3 linked regions of the Homo sapiens genome follow. The protein of the gene in region 1 purifies or fractionates together with the protein of each later gene. This does not show direct contact. Each region holds a gene or a part of one and is shown in the gene's direction. Other genes may lie near its edges.

Region 1 (3,651 bases):
GAGGACCAGCCGAAGCTTGGAGGCAGCCCCTCCTGGTGCTCAGAGATTCTGTAGTCTGCGGCTTTGGGTTTTCCATGGAGTCCTGTGGTAGCCACTGAGAAAAGTTGACCAGTGGGCTCCTCAGCTGGGTCTGGGCGCATTTCTCCATTTTACCACGTACTCAGGGGGTTTGGGATGAGTGGGACTTTAAGTTCTTTACTCAGAACTGTGCTGGAAAGAGCACTGGAGAGTAGCTTAGGCCCATAACACAGGTCTGGTGAGCCATAGGGTCGGTCTCATACAGGTCAAGTCACTGTCTTGTGCCTCAGTTTCTCTCTCTCTTTTTTTTTTTTTTTTTTTTAGATGGAGTCTCACTCTGTTGCCCAGGCTGGAGTGCAGTGGTGCAATCTCGGCTCCCTGCAATCTCTACCTCTCGGGTTCAAGCAAGTCTCTGCCTCACCCTCTCGAGTAGCCGGGATTACAGGCGCCTGCCACCATGCCTGGCTAATTTTTTTGTATTTTTTAGTAGAGATGGGGTTTCACCATCTTGGCCAGGTTGGTCTTGAACTCCTGACCTCCTGATCCACCCGCCTCGGCCTCCTAAAGTGCGGGGATTGCAGGTGTGAGCCACTGAGCCCGGCCGAGTTTGTCTGCTATAAAAGTATGATTGTCGTCATTACAGTGATTGCTGATTGAGGGCTTGCTCAGCACCTTTCTGGGGGCTCAACGAATGTTCTGTGATGTTGAGTTCACCACCCTATACCCTGGGAGAGAGATAGTGTGTTTCCATTTCACAGGTCAGCAGACTCGAGCACAGAGAGGTGAGGTAACACAGCCTGGCAGGAGTGGAGTTGGGATTCAAGGCCTGGTCTGAATGGTGGTGCTCTCACATTGCAGTTGCACTCCAAGGGACCCTTGCAAGGTGCTAACAGATGTGAATGCCTTTTGGAAAGTCAAAATTGGTGTTCAGATGGGAGACATTATTTTTCCACACCAGTCAGAGTGAACTTGTGCATGGCTGTGTGCGGGCCAACTGGCAGTGGACAATGGAGTCACCTCTATTTCTTGCAAGGACAGTGGTGCTGAGTGTCTATTATAAGGGTCCGTTTTCCCTGGGATCTGGTGGGAGGCATTCTTTCAGGACCTGTTCAGCTAAACAATGCCTCATTGTGGACATGAAGGACTCTGGACCCTGTGGTTCAGGGTGACCTTTTGAACATGCTTAGCAGCCATTATTATAATAAATATACAAAATGAAAACTTGTGATAAAATACTGTGTGTATTCCCTGCTTACCAAGCGCCAGCCACTGTACCAAGTGTTGTATATTAACGAGCTAATTCAGTCCTCACAGTGACGCCATCCAGGCTCTCTTTCTCCATATTAGAGCTGAAGAAAAAGGAGTAGAGAGGTTGCGACTTGCCCAAAGTCACATACCTAGAAAGTGGTGGGGTGGGTTAGAACTCAGGTCTATTTGATTCCCGAGGCTTCCTGCCCAAGCACTGTCTGTCTCAACCCTACCTGGTCAAGCCAAGCAGTGAGGCTCCAGGGAACTTGAGGTGCCTTAGGTCAGGTAGGAGCCCCAGGTATGCCTGGGATCCAGACCATAGTGTACTGGCTGCCAGCGCAGGCCATCTCCCCTTGATAGGTGGGTGGGCAGGCTGCCCTGAGTCAGCAACCTCTTGAGCCCAGGAGCTCAGCATGGAACTCAGCTGTGCTGGTGGTGGCCCAGCTGCCAGGGTGTTTCAAAATAGAAGCTACCCCTGGAAAGCTCTACTGCCCACTGCGAGACTGTTGTGGAAGAATGGAGGGAGAGAACAGCTGCATTGGGTACGCAGACCTGCTACCAGAACACAGGGCCATCAGCCTTTGCCAGCATCCTGGAGCTTGAACCAGGAACTGTTCCCCTGGGTTGTTTCTTCCTGGCAAGAAAGAGAAAGTGCTGGAGTGTGTGTGTGTGCATGCGTGCATGTGTGTGAGCGAGCTGCTGATTGTGTTCGCCCCCATGTTGGCTTTTAGAGCTAGGGTTGCCTTCTGCTGGGGAAGTTGCTTTTCCTGGTCCTCAGGGCTAGGAAGAGGTGCTGTTTCTGTGATCACTGGCTGGTCTGATACCCCTCCTATAGGCTGGCCTAGTTCTGCCCTGACAAACCACCTAGAATGGTGTTGGTGAAACAGCGGGGCCAGAGACTTTTCCATAGTACTCTCTTCCTTGGCAGAATCATAAGATGATGGCAATGATGATGATGATGGTTGTGATTGCTCTGTTGGTTAGCGTCTTTGCAGGGATCTGGTGCACACTTACACTTGGTAATCCAGGAGAGTTTAATGAAGACATCATTTGCAAAGCTGTGGATGGGGTGTCAGGTCTGGTCTGTTAACACCCTGAGGCCTACAAGAGAGGGAGCTTCTTGGCAGGAGCTGTGGCCTTGGGTAGAGGAAGGTAGTCATTGCCCATCTGAAGCCTAGCAGGGAGGGAGACTCGGGGTGAGTACCCCGACTTCATTCTTCCCTAAACTCCCGTCTTCTGCAAGTACCTCACGTTGAAAGGCTAAGCCCAATCATAAGCCCATGGACAGCAGTCCATAATGATCAGTTCTGGGGGCACAGAGCAGGGTGGAAGGGAGGAGAATGGATCTGGAGGGGCAGACAGAGTATCCAGTGTAGTGGATTATGGTTATTACTGCCATTTGTTGAACACTTACTCCATGCCAGATACTTCTGCTGTTCTGCCTGTTTCACTCATTCCTTGTAACAACTTCCTTAGGCCTAAGGCCTTTCCTCCCAGCTGTTTTTAGCTGAGTCTTGGAGACCCATGGCCACCCTGCTCCCTGTATCAACCATTGCAGTAGTTGTTGGCTCTCTAGGGGTGCAAAGCTCATCTGCCTGAATCCTTCTATTATTACTATTTATTTCTTTTTATTTTTTATTTAAAAGAGACAGGGTCTCACTGTATTGCCCAGGCTGGTCTCGAACTCCTGCATTCAGGCGATCCTCCTGCCTCAGCCTCCCAAAGTGCTGGGATTAGAGGCGTGAGCCACCATGCCTGGCACATGCCTGAATCCTTTTGAGGGAGCCTCTGCAGAGAAGAGAGCATATTTCTACCAGGCGGGGGCCTGGTAGGTGCTTAGTGCAGGAACCGCCCTGAGCTGCTGCTTCTCAGTGGCACCTGGGGGCAGCCCTGCCTGTTAGGCACAGGCTGAGAGGTAGGGCAGGAGGAGTTCCATCTCTTCTGGCAGGCTCTTCTTGAACAAGCGCCTCCGGTGATTCTTGTGCACCCTGAAGTTAGGGAGCTCTTTCCTGCTCATGATTTCTGGCAGGGTGGCCAAGCCACTAGTGGTCACCTGGGAGTGAAATGTGCCCCGACGGACCTTGCCTGATAACTCTTCCATCTCAGTGTAGTTTAAATCTGTTCTTGCAATCTGTATGGACACTCTAGGTAGCCTTCTGGCATTGCTACTGCAGCAGCCTTGGAACGTGATTTGGGACACAACACAGCTCAATTTCAGGCACAGTGGTTGGCTTTTAAAGTGCTGTTTTTTTGGAGAGGGAGTCTCTCGCTCTGTCACCCAGGCTGGAGTGCAGTGGCACGATCTTGGCTCACTGCAGCCTTTGCCTTTGGGTTCAAGTGATTCTCATGCCTCAGCCTCCCAAGTAGCTGGGATTACAGGCACTT
Region 2 (3,651 bases), on another chromosome or scaffold:
GGCATTGTTGCAGTAATAATTTGAAAGGAATCTTTTTTCTGAGCAATGGGCTTAAAATATTCAGTCAACCATGCTATAAACAGATGTACTATCATCCAGGCTTTTTTGTTCATTTACAGAGCATAGGCAGAGTAGATTTAGCATAATTCCTAAGGGCTCTAGGATTTTGAGAATGGTAAATGACCTCATCCTAAAGTCACCAGCTGCATTAGTCCCCAACAAGAGTCAGCTTGTCGTTTGAAGCTTTGACGCCAGGCATTGACTTCTCTAGCTACGAATGTCCTGGACGGCATCTTCCAATGTAAGGCTGTTTTGTCAGCATTGAAAATCTGTGGTTTAGTGTAGCCACCTTCATCGATGATCTTATGTAGATCTTCTGGATAACGTGCTGCAGCTTCTATATTAGCATTTGCTGCTTCACTGTGTACTATTATATTAAGAAGATGGCTTCTTTCCTTAAAGCTCATGAACTAACCACGGCTAGCTTCAGACTTTTCTTCTGCATCTCACCTCTCTCAGCCTTCATATAATTGAAGAGAGTTAGGGCATTGCTCTGGATTAAGCTTTGACTTAAGGGAATACAGTTTGATCTAATCCAGACCAGTAAAACTCTGTATTATCAGCAATAAGTCTGTCTTGCTTTCATATCATTTATGTGTTCAGTGGAGTAGCACTATTAGTTTTCTTCAAGAACTGCACTGGTGCAAGAGGCCTAGCTTTTGACCTGTATCCGTTTTTAACATGCCTTCCTGACTTCCTTAGAAGCTTAATCCTTTCTAGCTTCTGATTTAAAGTGAGAGACATGAGACTCTTCCTTTCACTTGTATACTTAGGGGCCATTGTCGGGTTATTCATTAGCTTAATTTCAATATTGTTGTGTCTCAGGAGTAGGAATATCCAAAGAGAGGGAGAAAGACTTGGGGAGCAGCTGGTCAGTGGAACACTCAGGACAGAAACAGCATTTCTTTTTTTTTAATTAATTTATATTAAAGACAGGGTCTTGCTCTGTTTCCCAGGCTGGAGTGGAGTGGTGCAGACATACCTTATTGCAGCCTTGAACTCCTGGGCCCAAGCGATTCTTCTCCCTCCGCTTCCCAAGTAGCTAGGACTATAGGCACATGACTCCATGCCTGGCTAATTTTTTATTTTTTGTACAAATGGAGGTCTCACTATGTTGCCCAGACTGGTCTTGAACTCCTGGCCTCAGGTGATCCTCTCACCTCAGCCCAGCATGCTGGGATTGCAGATGTGAGCCACTGCACCCAGCCCAGATTTTTTATATATTGTGTTGTCAGTGGTAAAGATGATAGAGAATGTCTCATTCTGCTGATAGGAGTATAAATTGATACAACCACTTAGGAAAGAATCAAGGAATATCTGGTAATATTGAAAAACCCCACAGTTTTTAATCACATTCACAAAGGTATTCTTTATAAAGACTGGAAACGATCTAAGTGTCCATCTTTAGGGAAATGGGTAAAGTATGACAGAGTCATGATGAGACCACTATACAGCCATTACGGAATGAACTAGATCCATACGTCAACATAGCACAACTGAAGGGCAAAATAGAGTGTGAACAAGCAAGTTTCAAGATTTCTTTAAGGTATTTTAATTTTTTAAGCAGAAAAATACTATGTAGTGCTTATGATTGTGGTTTCCAGAGTGGGAGAGAGTGAGGGAATTGGTCTTGGAAGGGTACGAAAAGATCTTCAACTTTATTTGCCATTTTAAAAAATTGTGGTCAAATGTATATAACATAAAATTTATATATATATATATATATATATATATATATATATATATATATTTTAGACAGTCTCGCTGTGTCGCCCAGGCTGGAGTGCAGTGGCATGATCTTGGCTCACTGTAACCTCCGCCTCTTGGGTTCAAGCGATTCTCCTGCCTCAGCCTCCGTGGTAGCTGGGATTACAGGCGTGCGCCACCATGCTTGGCTAATTTTTGTATTTTCAGTAGAGACCATGGTTTCACCCTGTTGGCCAGGCTGGTCTCAAACTCCTGACCTCAAGTGATCCGCCCACCTCGGCCTCCCAAAGTGCTGGGATTACAGGTGTGAGCCACTGCGCCCGGCCCAAATTTATCATTTTCTTAAGTGTGCAGTTAAGTGGCATTCAGCAACCATCACCAACATTCAGCTCCGGAACTTTTCTATCTTCTCCCACCTGAAATTCTGTACCTGTTAAACAATGGCTGCTCATTCTCCCCTCCCCTCAGCCTTTGGCAACTGCCATTCTCTTTTCAGTCTCTACAAATTTGACTACTCCAGGTACCTCATAAGTAGAATCATACAATATTTGTCCCTTTGTGACTGGCTTATTATCCTTAGCATAATGTCCTCAGGGTTCATCTGTGTTGTAACATGTGACCAGATTTCACTCCTTTTAAGGTTGAATTATTTGCTGGTTTTTAAAAAAATTTTGAATTTTAGTTGGTTAATATGTGGAGTTTTGTTATATTATTGTTCGCACCTTTTATACTTCAGAAATTTTCTTTCCAAAGGAATTGGTTGATAGAAGATTATAAGGGAAAGCTTACTATCCTGATTCAGATGATTTACTCTAGTTTATTTTCCGATTCAGTGTGACCGCAACAAGGGAAAACATGGCTTATACTGTGGAATGCCTGCGGGGTGATGTGTAAGTACCTGTGTGTGTTTAGGACTTCTGCTTTGAAAGAAATACTAAGCTGCTCACTTCTGGTCTTTGTAATGCGTCATTATGACCTCTGACTTCCATTTTGGATTATTGTTCATAAACTGCTCAAAAACACTGCTTACCACAAGACCTAAAGTTTCACATTGAGAGCATTACAGCTATGTAGAATCTCAAATGTTGGCTTTACATTTTTGACTCATAATTCTTATCTCGATGTCTTCTGTAGTGATATTCTAATGGAGTTCCTGCTCAATGTCACCACAGCACCAGAATTTCGTCGTTGGGAAGTAGCTGACCTTCAGCCTCAGCTAAAGATTGACAAAGCTGTGGCCTTTCAGAATCCGCAGACTCGTAAGTACATTTCCAGATCACATTTGATTCTAAGATACTGGGTTTTTTAGAAGATCAATTTATAGAAGAAAAAAAATTGCTGTCAAAATTTTTATTTTTATTTTTATTTATTTATTGTTTTGAGACAGAGTCTCACTCTGTCACCCAGGCTGGAGTGCAGTGGCACGATCTTGGCTCACTGCAACCTCCAGCTCCCGGGTTCAAGCAATTCTCCTGCCTCAGCCTCCTGAGCAGCTGGAATTATAGGTGTGCACCACCACACCTGGCTAATTTTTTGTATTTTTAGTAGAAACAGGGTTTTGCCATGTTGGTCAGACTGGAGTTCAGTCTTGAATTCCTGGCCTCAAGTGATCCACCCACCTCAGCCTCCCAAAGTGCTGGTGTTACAGGTGTGAGCCACCATGCCTGGCCAAATGTTTTACTCCTTGAATTTGAAAATATCTTTTTCAAAAATTTGTTATTTAGATTTATTATTCTTTTGTTTCTAAACATTTATAATCATTTTTCATGTTTGATGGTAAGTAAATTGTTTGTAAGATCCTAGAAGTTTTTCCTGTTTCCTTCCCAATGTTTTGTTTTTGTTTGTTTGTTTGTTTGTTTTTGAGACAGGGTGTTGCTTGTTGCC
Region 3 (3,651 bases), on another chromosome or scaffold:
GCAAATTGGTTTTGTTTTAAGGTTTAGGGCCCTTTCACCCTATGTTACGGTTAGAGGAGGGTTTGGTCTTGTATCAGCTCTGCCACTTTCTAAAACTTGGTTATATTTCTTTTTTTCTTTGATGGAGTCTCGCTCTGTCATCCCGGTTGGAGTGCAGTGTCATGATCTTGGCTCACTGCAACCTCCACCTCCTGAGTTCAAGTGATTCTCCTGCCTCAGCCTCCCAAGTAGCTGGGATTACAGGCCCCAACCACCATGCCCGGCTAATTTTTGAATTTTTAGACCACCATTTTGGCAAGCTGGTCTCGAACTCCTGACCTCAAGTGATCCACTCACCTCAGCCTCCCAAAGTGCTGGGATTACAGGCATGAGCCACACACCCAGCTAAAACTTGGTTATATTTCAGCATGTCTAATAAAGATAGGGAAAGGAAGAATACAGACAGGCCTGCCTTAGAGATCATCATGAGCCTCAAATGAGATAAAATATATGAAAATGCTCTGTAACCTGTAAAGTACTGAACACTTAATAGCTTTTATGTGCTGGGGAAAATTCCTTCTTTGTTTTGTTTACAAAGTGATCTGCATAAGAATATCCCCTCTTGAGGTGATGGACACATGCTGGTGATGTGATGCGTGACTTTTTTTTTTTTTTTGTCCTAATTCTAGGGATGCCAAGGCCTGCGTAGTACACGGCAGTGATCTAAAGGACATGACCTCCGAGCAGCTGGATGACATTTTGAAGTACCACACTGAGATAGTGTTTGCCAGGACCTCCCCTCAGCAGAAGCTCATCATTGTGGAAGGCTGCCAAAGACAGGTCAGCCAGCACAAGGATCAGGCTGCTTTGGGCACTATTGGCTTTAGGGATTGGAGTTCCAGTGGAAACAGAGCAACGGTGATGGATGGATGCATACCTCGCTGTATTAGACTCAGTATAAATAGGCCAGTAGGAAGCTCATAGGCATAGAGAGGGTGACTTGTTAATGGTTTAGCAGTGACAGAAGCACTTTAAAGTCCAGGTGTCCACTGTGTCCCAGAGCCTGACCGCTCCGTGGAGTCATCTGATATGGGGTCCTAGTATTTGCAATAGAGATGTGAGTGGTCAGACTACAGGGCGTGCATACAGGAATGGCATTTTCTGGAGTGCCACCCACCAGAGTCATTACTTTGAGTAGCTCTTGTTAATGCTGGGGGCTATGTTTGTTGTCACTTCTCAGTTCTGTTATTTGGTGTAGGGCCTGTGTGAATACTTGCCTGTGACGGTTCTCAGGCTTCATAAATAGTCTCAATAGGAAAGGAGCAGTGTCTGTAATGAGTGCTCAGTGGGGGCATGCATCGCACTATTTCCATCGCTAGGAAAAGTGATTGGTATTAACCCGTTTTCCCTTTTCTGGGGTAGGGTGCTATCGTGGCTGTGACTGGTGACGGTGTGAATGACTCTCCAGCTTTGAAGAAAGCAGACATTGGGGTTGCTATGGGGATTGCTGGCTCAGATGTGTCCAAGCAAGCTGCTGACATGATTCTTCTGGATGACAACTTTGCCTCAATTGTGACTGGAGTAGAGGAAGGTGAGAGCTATTTAAGGTGTACACCAAGATCTTATTCAGATACTGCCCATTAGCATCCATTTCTGTATACTTCTTGGATATGTTCAGTTTCCAGTGTGCTTGTCTCATAAGCTAACAGTAAAAAATCTTGGTTTTCATAGGTCGTCTGATCTTTGATAACTTGAAGAAATCCATTGCTTATACCTTAACCAGTAACATTCCCGAGATCACCCCGTTCCTGATATTTATTATTGCAAACATTCCACTACCACTGGGGACTGTCACCATCCTCTGCATTGACTTGGGCACTGACATGGTGAGTGTCACAACAGTCACAGATCGATAGTAGTGAGGTGTGAGCTGTGTCTTCATTCACTGGCACTATGCTCCCAGCATCCATGAGGCTGGCGTTGGGAAAAGAAATTCTCAGGACCAGTATCCAGTGTGTGTCCCAATCCCGGCTTCACAGAATCAGTATTACCACTCTTCAAGGCAGCAGTTAACATTTGTTTATCAGATGGGAATCTTTATTTTTGTATACTTCACCTAAAAGATTTTTAAATGGGAGGGCAAGAATTTTATAACAAAAGGTTCACAATATTAGCTTCCTTATTTTTAGTAACTAAATTCCTTCTCCCCACCCCTTCCCAGGTTCCTGCCATCTCCCTGGCTTATGAGCAGGCTGAGAGTGACATCATGAAGAGACAGCCCAGAAATCCCAAAACAGACAAACTTGTGAATGAGCGGCTGATCAGCATGGCCTATGGGCAGATTGGTAAGCTGCAGCCTGGAGTGGGAAGCTGGCACATCTAAGGCATCTGAGGTGATGGTGTCCACCTCAGGTTGAGGTTGATTTCAGAGACTGCAAATCCAGGCGACTTTCAGGTCTAGGATGAGCCCTAACGGAGTGAGCCTGTGGAGTTTCTCTGAACTCTCTTCCATGTGAGAATACATCTGTTGCTGTTTGCCCAGTTACCTTTTGTGGAAACTGGTTTTCTATACTGAGCACCTTGGAACTGGGCTCAACTCTGCCTGAGAAATGAGGATGTCCTTCCTCACTGAGCCTTGCGGAACAGGAGGCATGGTTCTAAGGAATTGTGTGTACTGACGCACAGGCTGCTTTCCCTGGAGATACACACTTATCTGTCACTCACTTGGATGGAGTTAGGCATTGGAGAAAGTATATGTGTTTGAGAGTTTGGCTGGTAGGTCACCACCAAAGGGTGATCCTCCATCCACCTCACACTGGACTTCTGCCCCCACAGTGCAGCATGACTAGCTAACAGGTGATCCAGGTGGTGGGCAATCAGCATGCCATTTGTTTTTAAATCCTCTGCCTAGGGTTCCTTCAAGAGAACCTGGCAAAGCCACCATGGATGTCTTATTCTCCTGGATTAATGGGTCACATAACTGTGAACGCTTGGATAAAGAAGAACAGATTAGATAGAATATTGTGGAAATTATGGCAAAGATTCATTAGACAGTTGTTGGCAACAAAGTAATTGGCTGGTGGCCCATCCTGACCTTCTCCAAGGAGGCCTGCTTTTGAGAGGAAGGAAGACTAGGTCTCTGGTGGTTTAGGATGAAACCCTGCCCTGAGGAACTTGGAGCAGCGTGGTTAAATTGGATGCCAGGGGGAGGAGGGTCCTGAAGGTGGGGAGGAGAGTCAGAAAGTGCCACAGTGGCTAGAAAAATGGCAGCATGTAGGAATTTTGAAAGATGGAAAAGAAGTTATCATTTGTCAGAGATTAAAAAGTAGGGAAGTGGATTTCCCCTAAAGGTCATACCCTTAGAAGCAGCTGGTCAAGTAACAGGTGGGCATTTTGAGAGCAAGGCACATGTGTCTTTGTGTAGGCTCCAAAAAGTGACTCAAAAAGCAGAGGGCCCTGAGATTGGAGTGTATGCCTGGGGTCCTCCATCCCATCCCTCATAGCCTGTGAGTGACCAGGCAATTCTTTCCTGTGCTTTTATCAACCAGGGGGAAACACTCCTCCATATGTGCTCTCCCAGGCCTGCTGCAGTAATCAGCTGAAGGCTATACAGGTACCCTTGTGTGTGAGGTTCTAGTAATTGGGTTGTTTTCCCAACTTAGGAATGATCCA

Evidence for each region.
Region 2: the proteins of VDAC1 (region 1) and UQCRC2 fractionate together in Homo sapiens (co-fractionation; 3 studies listed by BioGRID, with this or other methods). This does not show direct contact.
Region 3: the proteins of VDAC1 (region 1) and ATP1A1 fractionate together in Homo sapiens (co-fractionation; 3 studies listed by BioGRID, with this or other methods). This does not show direct contact.

Annotation. Positions count from the first base shown.
Region 1 is NC_000005.10:133,998,405-134,002,055, reverse strand, and holds part of VDAC1 (non-selective voltage-gated ion channel VDAC1), read left to right. Parts: intron 1-3,651. UniProt on the Homo sapiens protein: Non-selective voltage-gated ion channel that mediates the transport of anions and cations through the mitochondrion outer membrane and plasma membrane.
Region 2 is NC_000016.10:21,959,860-21,963,510, forward strand, and holds part of UQCRC2 (cytochrome b-c1 complex subunit 2, mitochondrial precursor), read left to right. Parts: intron 1-2,600; coding exon 2,601-2,657; intron 2,658-2,901; coding exon 2,902-3,026; intron 3,027-3,651. UniProt on the Homo sapiens protein: Component of the ubiquinol-cytochrome c oxidoreductase, a multisubunit transmembrane complex that is part of the mitochondrial electron transport chain which drives oxidative phosphorylation.
Region 3 is NC_000001.11:116,397,220-116,400,870, forward strand, and holds part of ATP1A1 (sodium/potassium-transporting ATPase subunit alpha-1), read left to right. Parts: intron 1-668; coding exon 669-819; intron 820-1,401; coding exon 1,402-1,570; intron 1,571-1,710; coding exon 1,711-1,865; exon of another isoform or gene 1,866-2,095; intron 2,096-2,200; coding exon 2,201-2,324; intron 2,325-3,641; coding exon 3,642-3,651. UniProt on the Homo sapiens protein: This is the catalytic component of the active enzyme, which catalyzes the hydrolysis of ATP coupled with the exchange of sodium and potassium ions across the plasma membrane.